Homo sapiens: one gene and its partner. The protein of the gene in region 1 interacts with the protein of each later gene in a pairwise test. Each region holds a gene or a part of one and is shown in the gene's direction. Other genes may lie near its edges. The genes, in order: SOX30 and FLI1.

Evidence for each region.
Region 2: the proteins of SOX30 (region 1) and FLI1 interact in binary tests that used the Homo sapiens proteins (3 or more experiments, as listed by UniProt).

Annotation. Positions count from the first base shown.
Region 1 is NC_000005.10:157,649,334-157,657,201, reverse strand, and holds the start of SOX30 (transcription factor SOX-30), read left to right. Parts: upstream 1-4,763; 5' UTR 4,764-5,123; coding exon 5,124-6,090; intron 6,091-7,868. UniProt on the Homo sapiens protein: Acts both as a transcriptional activator and a repressor. Binds to the DNA sequence 5'-ACAAT-3' and shows a preference for guanine residues surrounding this core motif. Binds to its own promoter and activates its own transcription.
Region 2 is NC_000011.10:128,808,932-128,813,917, forward strand, and holds the end of FLI1 (Friend leukemia integration 1 transcription factor), read left to right. Parts: intron 1-225; coding exon 226-273; intron 274-1,527; coding exon 1,528-2,057; 3' UTR 2,058-4,336; downstream 4,337-4,986. UniProt on the Homo sapiens protein: Sequence-specific transcriptional activator. Recognizes the DNA sequence 5'-C[CA]GGAAGT-3'.

The DNA of each region.
Region 1 (7,868 bases):
CATTTATACAATTACAGCCCCCAAAAATCCAAACACCATTTTACATTTGATAATGCTTCCTGTGTGGTTTTTGTACCAAATAAGCCAAATGTGACTCTTGCATTAGTGCATTATTGATGACAAACCCAATTCTTTATAAAACCTTATAGACAAATGTATTCAATCTTAATCAGTTTGACTATAAGGTAAGATTCTCACAAACCTTTTATAACCCTTTACATATTTTTGTTAAAGAGCAAATCATAGCAGGTTTTTGCTCTAAAAAAACTTGTGCTTTTATTCCAATGTTTAATTTATAGAAAAACTGAATACCCCTTTAACTTTAACTAATATATTCACACACAGAATGTCCTACAATTAATTTTTCACACTTTCCAAAACTTTCTTAAACCTTCAGCTTCATTCTATCTAACTTAAAACAATAATTTAACCATTTAATCTAAGGAAGAAAATTTACATTCTCATGACTTCTAATGATCTTTTACCAAAAACACATTTCACTTTCCTTACACACCTTATGTGTAGAACTATTCTTCAGTAGTCTCAATTACATGTTACAATGTTAACTTTCAGCGATTTTTACTTTTGGTGAAAACCCTGGTTGGTAAGCATTTTAATTATGTACTAGGTGTGCAGCCTAGGACACAGACAGAAGTGCAGATAAGGTCTGACTTTTTCTAGCATTGCTTGGGGTATGGCTAACATCACATGTCCCCAGGCCTTATCTAGACTCTAATATGGTCAAAGTAGGTAAATTAAACAATTTTCAAAAGTGAAAGCAGCAGCTTATGAACTTAAAGCATTTAGCAAACCTAATATCTGACCTGCATAATTTAGACCAAATGTTTACATTTTAAGATATTTTTATTTTACCAATAATCTTTAAAACTGTCTTCATTTCCCAAAGATTACTTAAGTCACATGAACTATATAAAAGGCATTATATGTTTAATTTTTCTCACAAAAATATGACTGAAGCACTTATTATTTTTAACCGATTAATCAAACCTCTGTTATATACAAGCACCACACACATGATACACATAAATACACAGACAAAAGATAAAGGACTCATCTCCTAAGATGGGAATTGAACCCTGAACCCGGGCCACCACTGTGAAAGAGAAAGCACAGCCACATGGTTACAAGGTCAAGCTCCCAAGGACATACAAGACAAGAGGGAAACCTCATCCAGTTTTTTTCACGGACCTGCAGCAAAGTTTTTAACTGACCAGTTTGCTGGGCCATCTTGAACAGCAGGCTTATAGGTGTCCTAAGCCCATGTTCTATCCTAAGGTACCCCTCTTTATGACAGAACAATACAGAATGACACAGGAAACACACCAGATTGGCTACAGCTTAAGACTAGCCTCACAAATCCTTTCTTCCATTAATCAAAACTTTGTAAGAAATAGTGATTTTTACCATTCCTACAACCAGTTTGCACAGAGAGAGACGACAGCATTGCCTGAGGCAAGGTGGGGAAGGCCAGGCGTTCAGGGAAGCCACAGAAAGATCCACCCACTGCAGCGACAGTGAAGAGTTCAGGTGGCCACTTCTCGGTAGTGAAGGGATGTTTTCCAGCAGTCCCATCGACTCTCAAGTTTCCCCTTTACGGGAGGAAAAAGCTCCTCATGTCCCATGATCCTGTACCTGCCTAACCCTGTCATCCGCATCCATCAGCAAAGAGTACAAGGCAGATTATTCCAAGGAGAATAGAAGTTAACATACCGTAGTGCCAAACCTGTTCTTAGCCAAAGGGGACTTTACCGAGAGGGGCTTCTAGCCCCCTAAATCTTAGAAGGGACTCTAACCCTCCTAAGTTGGGCTTCTAACCCAATCCCATTCTTTATCTGGGTACCCCACCACTTATCCAAAATTGTCCAATCAGTGCTATAGTCTATTTCCTTTGAGTCAGGAGTCTCCTAAGTATCGTCCCTTTAGGGTTCACCAGAAAGATGTTACCGGACCCCACCACTTACCCAAAGTTAGCCTTTGGGTCGGGGTTTCCATACTGCAGTCCATTCCATAGTTGCCAGAAAGATGTTACAGGACCTCACCACTTACTGGGGGCTTACACACTATAATCCCACCTGGGTCACCAGAAAGAAGTTACAGGAAAGGGGTCCAGATCCAGACCCCAAAAGAGGGTTCTTGGATCTCGCACAAGGAAGAATTCAGAGCGAGTCCATAAAGTAAAGTGAAAGCGAGTTTATTAAGAAAGTAAAGGAATAAAATAATGGCTACTCCATAGACTGAGCAACCCCAAGGGCTGCTGGTTGCCCATTTTTATGGTTATTTCTTGATGATAAGCTAAACAAGGGGTGGATTTTTCATGCCTCCCCTTTTTAGACCATATAGGATAACTTCCTGACATTGCAGTGGCATCTGTAAGCTGTCATGCTGCCAGTGTGAGTGTAGTAGTGAGGATGACAAGAGGTAATTCTCATCACCATCTTGGTTTTTGTGGGTTTTAGCCAGCTTCTTTATTGCAACCCGTTTTATCAGCAAGGTTTTTATGACCTGTACTTTGTGCCAGCCTCCTATCTCATCCTGTGACTTAGAATGCCTTAACTGTCTGGGAATGCGACCCAGTATGTTTCAGCCTCATTTTACCCAGCACCTACTCAAGATGGAGGTGCTCTGGTTCACACACCTCTGACAACTTATTTGCCTCTTTTATCAGCTTTTGCTCATGCATACAGTTGCCTCTCCCATTTAAACCCTAGTACAGTGGTTCTCAAAGTGTGGTATGGGGACTGACACTTACAGAGTCAGCTAGGTTAAAACTATTTTCATAATAATCCTAATGTAATATTTGCTCTTTTCACTTCATTCTCTTGTGAGCATAAGGTGGGGAAAATATAATTTTTTCCTATGAAAATGTGTTACCACAGAATGGTTTTATTGTTGACGTTTTAAATGAGTTGCTATCTTTAAAATTTGTTTTTATTTACAACATGGTAAATATTGATAGATGAAATCCACATGAACAAAAGCTTTTTTGGGATCTTCAATAGTTTTTTTTTTTTTTTTTGAGACAGGGTCTTGCTCTGTTGCCCAGGCTGGAGTGCAGTGGCACGATCTCGGCTCCTGCAACCTCTGCCTCCCAGGTTCAAGCGATTCTCCTGCCTCAGCCTCCCGAGTAGCTGGAATTACAGGCATGTGCCACCATGCCCAACTAATTTTTTATTTTTAGTAGAGACGAGGTTCCACCATGTTGGCCAGGCTGGTCTCGAACTCCTGACCTCAAGTGATCCGCCTGCCTCAGCCTCCCAAAGTGCTGGGATTACAGGAGTGAGCCACCACGCCCAGCCCAGGATCTTCAATAGTTTTTATGGGTATAATGAGTTCTTGAGATAAAAGTTTGAAAACCATTGCCCTTGTCTATCTGCCAGGTATAAGAACTCCTACTGACCACATTTGTTACCAGAGGATTGGACAATAAATTGGAGTGGTCTTTGAGTGATAACTTGTCTTGATTGCAAAAATCATCTACGTCAAGATAAACTATAGTTTTTGGCCAGAATGTCATTTAGAAATGCAGCAAATGTTAATACAGGATTTCTTTTTGTTTTTCTTGGTGATGTTTAATGGAAATAAACACAATCCTACTAAAAGGAGAAACATAAACATGGAAAGGATTTGGAACAGTGTCTAGCATAAGAGTAAGCCCTTAACACAGGTAGTGATTATTACTATTTTATTATTACCCTATCACAGTCGCTATTCATTTATTTATTCAACAAGTATTTATTGAGTACTATATGCCAGGCTCAATGGTCTGCATTGTGGATTCAGTGATGGGCAAAACACAAACTGTTCTGCCTTCAAGGACTTTATAGTCTAAAGTGGGAGAGGCAGTGGAATCATCACATGAAAATTCTAATTACAAATTGTGGTAAGCAAACCAAGTGATAGAGGTATAAGTAGACCAAGATTTTATCTGATTTTCAGAGTCAGTAAAAGCTTCTCTGAAGAAGTCCCAGTTGAGCTGCAATATGAAAAATGTGCAGGAGGAATTAAGGAGACACAAAGGAAAGAGTAGCATGCTGAGCATGTTTAAACACCCTGCAGTAGAAAGAGAATGATGATGGGGCCAATGTGGCTGAAACCCAAAGACTCAATAACTATTTAATGGCAAAAACCACAATTACTTTTGCACCAATCTAATAGTAGCAGTAGTAGGAGGTTAGATCCCAAGCCACTGGGGGATTTTTAAGGCTTTGCTAAGAATTTTAGACTTTCATTACATTATCAGTGGGGAGCCATGGAAAGTTTAGGAAAAGTGTGACAACCTTAGATTTGCGTTTTCGAAAGATCACTGGCAGCTGGAGTGTAGTGGGGCAAGGGTGACAAGCAGGGAGACTATTTACAGGGTTACGGCAGTATCCCAGTGAAAGATGCTGGGAGCCTGGAACAGGATAATGGCAGGTAGAGACACAAAACAGTGGATGAATTTGGGATGTATAGTATTTTGGAAGTAGGGCCACAGGGCCTGGTGATTAATTGAAACTTTAGCACAATAATCACACAAAGTCGAAGATCCTCCCCAGCAACATTAGCTAATAGGTTATTGATAAGTTGCAAAATCTTCCCCATTCTCCCTTGGCAAAGATTCAAAAGCCCTGGTGGTACTCAGGGCCGACAGATTACTCAGGCCGCACAGAGCGCGTGCACAAGGCCGTCGCTCCCCTTGTGACGCAAGACTTCATTCCCTGGATGTCAGCGGCCTGGAAGCGCAACGTTTCCTGGGCAACGCCATTGTCGCAGCTCCGGGTGGGGGAGGGATGACTAAAGACAACGGCTGTAAGAGAACTCCACAAGAGAGTCAGAACGAAAATGTGCAACAAGTGCGGCGGCTCCTACCATGGCAGGTGATTCGAGGACTCAGCACGAGGCGAGAGTAGGGACCAGGAAGAGCCGGAAAACCCGCCTGTGATTGGCCGTCCACGGGTATCGGTCGTTGTGATTGGGTGAGGCCCAGACAGACAGCTGCGTTTTGAACCGCGTAGGGTTCTGGGTAGCAAAGGCCTTGCAAGGCTCTTAACCGAAAGGGGGAGGGGGAAGGTCGCCAACAAACGGCTGAGCTCACAATCCTGGCCGGGGCGTCCCCCTCCCCCATGGAGAGAGCCAGACCCGAGCCGCCGCCTCAGCCGCGCCCGTTGCGTCCCGCTCCGCCCCCGCTGCCGGTCGAGGGCACCTCCTTTTGGGCAGCAGCCATGGAGCCCCCTCCGTCGTCTCCCACACTGAGCGCGGCAGCCAGTGCGACCTTGGCCTCGTCGTGCGGGGAGGCAGTGGCGTCCGGCTTACAGCCCGCGGTGCGGCGGCTGCTGCAGGTGAAGCCAGAGCAGGTGTTGCTGCTACCACAGCCTCAGGCCCAGAACGAGGAAGCCGCTGCCTCGTCCGCGCAGGCGCGGCTGTTGCAGTTCAGGCCCGACCTGCGGCTCCTGCAGCCGCCGACAGCGTCAGACGGCGCCACCTCCAGGCCCGAGTTGCACCCGGTGCAGCCCCTGGCGCTGCATGTCAAGGCCAAGAAGCAGAAGCTGGGGCCCAGCCTGGATCAGTCAGTGGGGCCTCGAGGGGCCGTCGAAACCGGTCCTAGAGCCTCCAGGGTGGTCAAGTTGGAAGGCCCCGGGCCGGCCCTCGGCTACTTCCGAGGGGACGAGAAGGGCAAGCTGGAGGCGGAGGAGGTCATGAGAGACTCGATGCAAGGCGGGGCAGGCAAAAGCCCGGCAGCCATCCGAGAAGGTGTGATCAAAACGGAGGAACCCGAGAGACTCCTCGAGGACTGCAGGCTCGGCGCGGAGCCCGCGTCCAATGGCCTGGTTCATGGCAGCGCGGAGGTCATCTTGGCCCCAACGTCCGGTGCCTTTGGGCCGCACCAGCAAGACCTTAGGATCCCTTTGACGCTCCACACGGTCCCCCCTGGGGCCCGGATCCAGTTTCAGGGAGCTCCGCCTTCAGAGCTGATAAGATTGACCAAGGTCCCCCTGACACCAGTGCCTACTAAAATGCAGTCCCTACTGGAGCCTTCTGTAAAAATTGAAACCAAAGATGTCCCGCTCACCGTGTTGCCCTCAGATGCAGGTATTAGACAGCAGGGGAGTCGGGTTTTCAAAACTGCGTCTGTGTTGCCCATAGCTGTTTTGTCAGCAGTTCCCAAGTCTAAACTACAAAAGTAAAGTAATGGAACTGATTGTTTTCAGGGCAGAGTCTGCACAGGTATCACTTCTGATCGACTTGTACATATAGCAGTAAAATACACGAATGCCTTCAAGATTCTCAAGTATTTTTTAAAAAATCGATTTTAAGGCCCAGTATTTAGATAGGACTAATTTTTGTACACAAAAATAGAAATATTCTTGCTAGACAGCGCATAGCCCTCAGTTTATATGCTACAAATAATCAAGATTAAAAATATTGTAGTATAACAGCTCAGTACTTTTATATGTATCAAGAAATAGAAGAAATAATGGTGTTGAATGAAAAAAGTGATTATAATTAAACAGGAAAGTTTATACCGATTATAGAGGCTATCTTTAAAAATGAATAATAAATATTCTAGCAGAAAACAATACGTGATTCAATGTAATATTTTAGGGTTTATTCCTCTGAAAGGTAATGACTTATAGAAATATTGAAAAGAATACAGTAGAATGAGCCATAAATATTATTTTTAAAGAAATGACTAGTTGCAGCAGTAACAAGTACAAATAATGTTTTTATTTCTATTCAGTATTTCCAGATATATAGTTAGCAAATTCTTATTTTAAGATTTAGTTCACACAGAACACTTTGCCAATGAACATCTTGGAAAGTCATATTAATCTTTGGTTCATATTTTTATTAACTTTATGTTTTATTGTTTTTTTAATTTTCTGTGTTGATTCTTCCTCTCCACTCCACCCTGTTGCTTTTATCTTTAGTAGTTTTTAGATTTTATTTTTGTTTTCTAAAGGAAAGAAAGGGAAAGCTTTCTTTATACTACTTATTTCATCTTTAGTGTTTTTAAGAAATTTTTAATATATGAAGTAATCCTAAAATAATATAATAAATTTATGGACAGTTATTTTTGATAAAATACATGAGAGATGTGAATTTAGATAACTTCCTTTGTTGAAATTTCAACTGGCTCTGTGACTTTCTTTTTTTAAATTTTATTTTATGAAAAAGAGATGCTGGTCTCGAACTCCTGGGATGAAGCAGTCCTCCGCCTTGGCCTCCCAAAGTACTGAGGTTACAGGTGTGAGCCATTGTGGCTGCCTTCTCTGACTTTCAAAAAAATTACTTTTATTATTTTCTGTCATTTTTTTTCTGAAATATTGGCAGAGAGGTTCTAGGAATGAAGGTCAGAAGCAAGTGTGAGCCATTTTACCTGCCTTCTGTGACTTTCAAAAAATTATTTTTTTGAGACTGAGTCTCACTCTGTTGCCCAGTCTGGAGTACCGTGGCGTGATCTCAGCTCGCTGCAACCTCCACCTCCTGGGTTCAAGCGATTCTCCTGCCTCAGCCTCCTAGGTAGCTGGGACTACAGGCATGAGCAACCACGCCTGGCTAATTTTTGTATTTTCAGTAGAGATGGGGTTTCATCATGTTGGCCAGGCTGGTCTCAAACTCCTGACCTCGCGTGATCCACCTGCCTTGGCCTCCCAAAGTGCTGGGATTACAGGCGTGAGCCACCGTACCTGGCCCAAAAAATTATTTTTATTGTTTTCTTTCATTTTTCTCCCAGGACACAGGACTAGTGTTGATGATTCCACTTGGTAAGAGCTTCACCTTCGTAGTGAAATACAACTAATATAGTATTACAATATTATAAATAGTTTTGCTTGAAAGGACACAAGAGCAGCATGTAGATGAGTTCC
Region 2 (4,986 bases), on another chromosome or scaffold:
GTAATCCTGTTCCTATTCTTTGTTCTTTCTGTAATTATTGAGATGAAGACCACAAATGTCATCAAGATCTTTGAGATCTGCAAATAAAAGCAGTAAAGTTTTCTGAAATCAGTCTTTCCTGTGATCTTGAAATAAAAGTATAAACCCTTATGGTTTTCTTATGGTTGGTACGGTTGTCATATTTTTTAAAAACACTGAAGCAAATTTCCTTTTTTATTTCCTTAGATCCGTATCAGATCCTGGGCCCGACCAGCAGTCGCCTAGCCAACCCTGGTGAGTTTACCTTGGCCTGCAAGCCTTTTTTGCCAGAATGTTTCGTAGCTTTGTGAAATCACAGAGACTTCTGTCCTAAGTCCAGACACCTGAGTGGGGAGTAACATGCACGTCTTTCCTTGAAATGTTCAATGTCTGTTTCTGGAGCATGTGAACAACAGGTCAGGGCTTGTTATGAGGTGTCAAGGTTGGTTAGCTGAGGATACTTCTAGGAATAAACACATCAGCACTGCACATGTGCACTTAGGTGTAGATGAGTAATAAGTGGCACAGGTAGGTAGGCGTTTCAATCAGAGAAAATGGGCAAGAAAGAAAAGAAGACAACTCCACTCAGCTCTCAGTTGTCTCCCGCATGCCAGGCACAAGTTCATAAATATTCCAAAGGGTTTTATTTGTGATTTTAGAAAGTGTTGCCAAGTTATCTGGCCTTATAAAAGAGATGTGTCCTGGAAAAGTTGCAGATATAGTCAATTTGACCTTGTACTTTAAAGATTTAGTATCAAAAATAACTCTCAAGAGGGTCCTTCTAAACCAAGTCCATCGAGATTGGGAGCTAGCAGGCCCTTGTCGCAGTGTGGCCCACTCACCTTCCCATCCCAGGGACTCTGCCTACCCATTCCTTAGTGCCTGGTCATTACTGCCAGAGGAGAAAGCAGCCACCCAGCATATTCTGGGTATTTTTCTCTCTGCACAAGTTCTCTGTAGAACTTAGAGCTGCAAGCCAAGCTCTGGGCCTGCCAAGGGCCAATCCAGGTCCTGTCCATCCAAAAGCTAAAGCTCATGGCGCAGCTTCTCCCAATGACTCCCACAGTCATGCCTTGCCCCTGACTTTTTATTGCTGACAGGGAATTCCCTGGGGGACATGACCACTAATTAGAGATCAGTCAGTGATTCAGGCCTTTCTAGATGAAGAGATTCAAAAGCCTTGCCAAAGGGATTGAGGGGGGATATGGCTCACCCAAGATCACACAGCTAGTTCTGGGCAGAGTTTGCACCTCACTTCCCACATTCCATTTACCAGGCCTTGGGGCAAAGCATCTTAGGATCTAACCTCGCTTATTATACCCATCTCCAAGGCAAGCAGAAAGGCAAATCAACAATGACATAAGAAGGGCTTGTCAAGTCGATCCCAATGTCGAAGGAAACAAAAGGTTTCTTTAAAAGGATGAGAAGCTCCCTGCATTTAGGGAACTGGGTTCTGCCTTCTCTGGGCTGAGGTGTTCTGTTCTCTCCCGTTTGCCTCACGGCGTGCAGGAAGCGGGCAGATCCAGCTGTGGCAATTCCTCCTGGAGCTGCTCTCCGACAGCGCCAACGCCAGCTGTATCACCTGGGAGGGGACCAACGGGGAGTTCAAAATGACGGACCCCGATGAGGTGGCCAGGCGCTGGGGCGAGCGGAAAAGCAAGCCCAACATGAATTACGACAAGCTGAGCCGGGCCCTCCGTTATTACTATGATAAAAACATTATGACCAAAGTGCACGGCAAAAGATATGCTTACAAATTTGACTTCCACGGCATTGCCCAGGCTCTGCAGCCACATCCGACCGAGTCGTCCATGTACAAGTACCCTTCTGACATCTCCTACATGCCTTCCTACCATGCCCACCAGCAGAAGGTGAACTTTGTCCCTCCCCATCCATCCTCCATGCCTGTCACTTCCTCCAGCTTCTTTGGAGCCGCATCACAATACTGGACCTCCCCCACGGGGGGAATCTACCCCAACCCCAACGTCCCCCGCCATCCTAACACCCACGTGCCTTCACACTTAGGCAGCTACTACTAGAAGCTTACTCATCAGTGGCCTTCTAGCTGAAGCCCATCCTGCACACTTACTGGATGCTTTGGACTCAACAGGACATATGTGGCCTTGAAGGGAAGACAAAACTGGATGTTCTTTCTTGTTGGATAGAACCTTTGTATTTGTTCTTTAAAAACATTTTTTTTAATGTTGGTAACTTTTGCTTCCTCTACCTGAACAAAGAGATGAATAATTCCATGGGCCAGTATGCCAGTTTGAATTCTCAGTCTCCTAGCATCTTGTGAGTTGCATATTAAGATTACTGGAATGGTTAAGTCATGGTTCTGAGAAAGAAGCTGTACGTTTTCTTTATGTTTTTATGACCAAAGCAGTTTCTTGTCAATACACGGGGTTCAGTATGACACAGAATCATGGACTTAACCCGTCATGTTCTGGTTTGAGATTTAGTGACAAATAGAGGTGGGAAGCTTATAATCTAATTTTAGGAGGACCAAATTCAGTGGATGGCAACTGGAACATTGATTGTAAGGCCAGTGAAGTTTTCACCCAACTGGAATTTGATGGAAAGAAGGTTTGTGTGTTTAAGACGCCAAGGGCATTGCAGAATCCCTCTCAGTGGACAGTATGCACTCAGCTGACCACTCTCTCTAGAAATAGTCAAGATATGAACTAAGAAATTTTAATGCAAATACATACATTCCTGAAAGACGGGGAATTAAATTACTAATTTTTTTTTTTTTTTAAATGATGACAGTGGTCCCAGAACTTGGAAAAGTTGTAGGGATTTCTAAACTCAAGCAGATTCGCAAGTGCTGTGCGCTTGTCAGACCATCAGACCAGGGCCAACCAATCAGAAGGCAACTTACTGTATAAATTATGCAGAGTTATTTTCCTATATCTCACAGTATTAAAAATAAATAATTAAAAATTAAGAATAAATAAACGAGTTGACCTCGGTCACAAAAGCAGTTTTACTATCGAATCAATCGCTGTTATTTTTTTTAATGTAATTTGTACATCTTTTTTCAATCTGTACATTTGGGCTGTCTGTATGTTTTTATAGCTGGTTTTTAAAAAGCATAATATGCCTATAGCTGAAAAGGAAACAGGGCTGTTTAAGTCACTGACTTATGAGAAAGCAAAGCACTGGTACAGTTATTTAACAGGCATACACAAGCAGGGAAAAGATAATCCATTTAGATCTTTAATGCTTTGGAAATGCGTGTAACAGTACTGCAATAATCACAGCTCTGGGAAAAACAACGAAACTTTCCCTTGTGGAGAGGAGGGATTTTCCTGCTCTATATAAGCAACATATTTTTAGACATTAAAATATATATAATTTTGCAGGTAATTGTTGACTTTTTTAACTATATTAAGTGTTAAGCTGACAACTGTCAAAGAAGACCATGTTGTAAAATAATTTGACTAAATAAATGGTTCCTTCTCTCAGTGCTGAGGACAGTTTTCTTATTTACCGCCCCCGTTAGGTCAAAGGGTTTTCCCTGGGGAACTTTCCTATTTACTTCTTGCACTATCAAGAATTTTTCGAATGTACCTACTGCAGTACAGCAGAAGGTAAAAAATCAGTGTGGTTTTTCATTGTTGTTGATGATGTTTGTAGTGTTTTTGTGTGTGTTATTTAAATCTTCCTCCAGCCTAAAAGGGTTTTATAAAACAGCAGCTAAGGCCATGGATAAACCTGTATGTAAGGACTGGAGCAAAGCGAGCTGGTCTATCCAGACTGGTCTGTGAGATTTAACTCTGCAGCCTCCCCTGGGCACTTCAGACCCAGACGGCCACCTTCTGCCACTCCAGCAAAGAATAAGCGCCCTGCTTCCTTCAGGTCTCAGACCAGGACTTTATGGCTCATGCAGATTTTTAAGGTCATTTTTCTTCCCAAGGAAGAAACTTGCCTCCAGTTCCTTCACTGTTAGGTAGCTTATTTTCATTTTCTCTATTTTACAATGAAAAGAGTGAGACCTGGGAAGTCCTTGATTTGCAAGGAATTAGACTCACAGCATTGGTAACCCTAGAACCTTCTTAGGGTAACACTAAGTACCTTCTAGACAACATGTCTACCTAAATGAAATGGGATGTGTTTCGGAACATTTGTCTCCAGTTTTTTTTTAATCTTGCACCCTGCCATTTAAAAAGATGTGTAAAGCACATATTCTCAACATATGCACATTGATTTATAAATCATATATACAAACTGTTACATTATTCTTCATATTAGAAAACAAATACAAAATAGAACATTTTAAATGGTGATATAAAAATAAATTGAAACTGAAATTCTACTCTTTTCCTCCTATTTTCTCTATATTGAATATCCTCTGCTATTAACTCTCAAAACAAAGATGTTGGTCTTTAGTGAAAAAAGTGTATGCATGTACTGGATTTCTAGTGACTTCCAAGAAAGGAGAAAATTAAAACTTGGTATTAGTGGCCCAAGCATAGAAAGAGGAATGATGAAGGCCAGGTATGTTTAAGAACAAACTAGCTGAATTCTTTGGCAGATCTCCATCTTAGCCACGCAATTTCCCCATCAATTTTGAAATCTGCAAAGTATTCATTAGGGAAAATGGAGGCATATATTTCTGAGTGCTGTAAGAAGATGCTCAGCCCATTAGTTCATTCTTTTAAAGGTTTTCTTTATGTGTCCTACTCAAACACTGGCTCAGGCTCATCTTCTCTACACAGTCATAGAGCTTTAGCCAAATCTCGCCCCCTGAATATGTTCCACAGTGATTTGTCCTATGCCTCAGAAGCTGGCCCACTGGCTGACAGGACTGGGGCACCATTTTCTCCTCATAAGCATTTGTACAGAGGGGGCACTGGCATTTATTCCCCTGCAATGCCCAGATTGAACGTTTGCTAGCTGGCTCCAGGGCATGCAGCGGACTAGTCCCAGAGGACAAACAGAATCTTTGCCCTCCTGTCTGCTAGT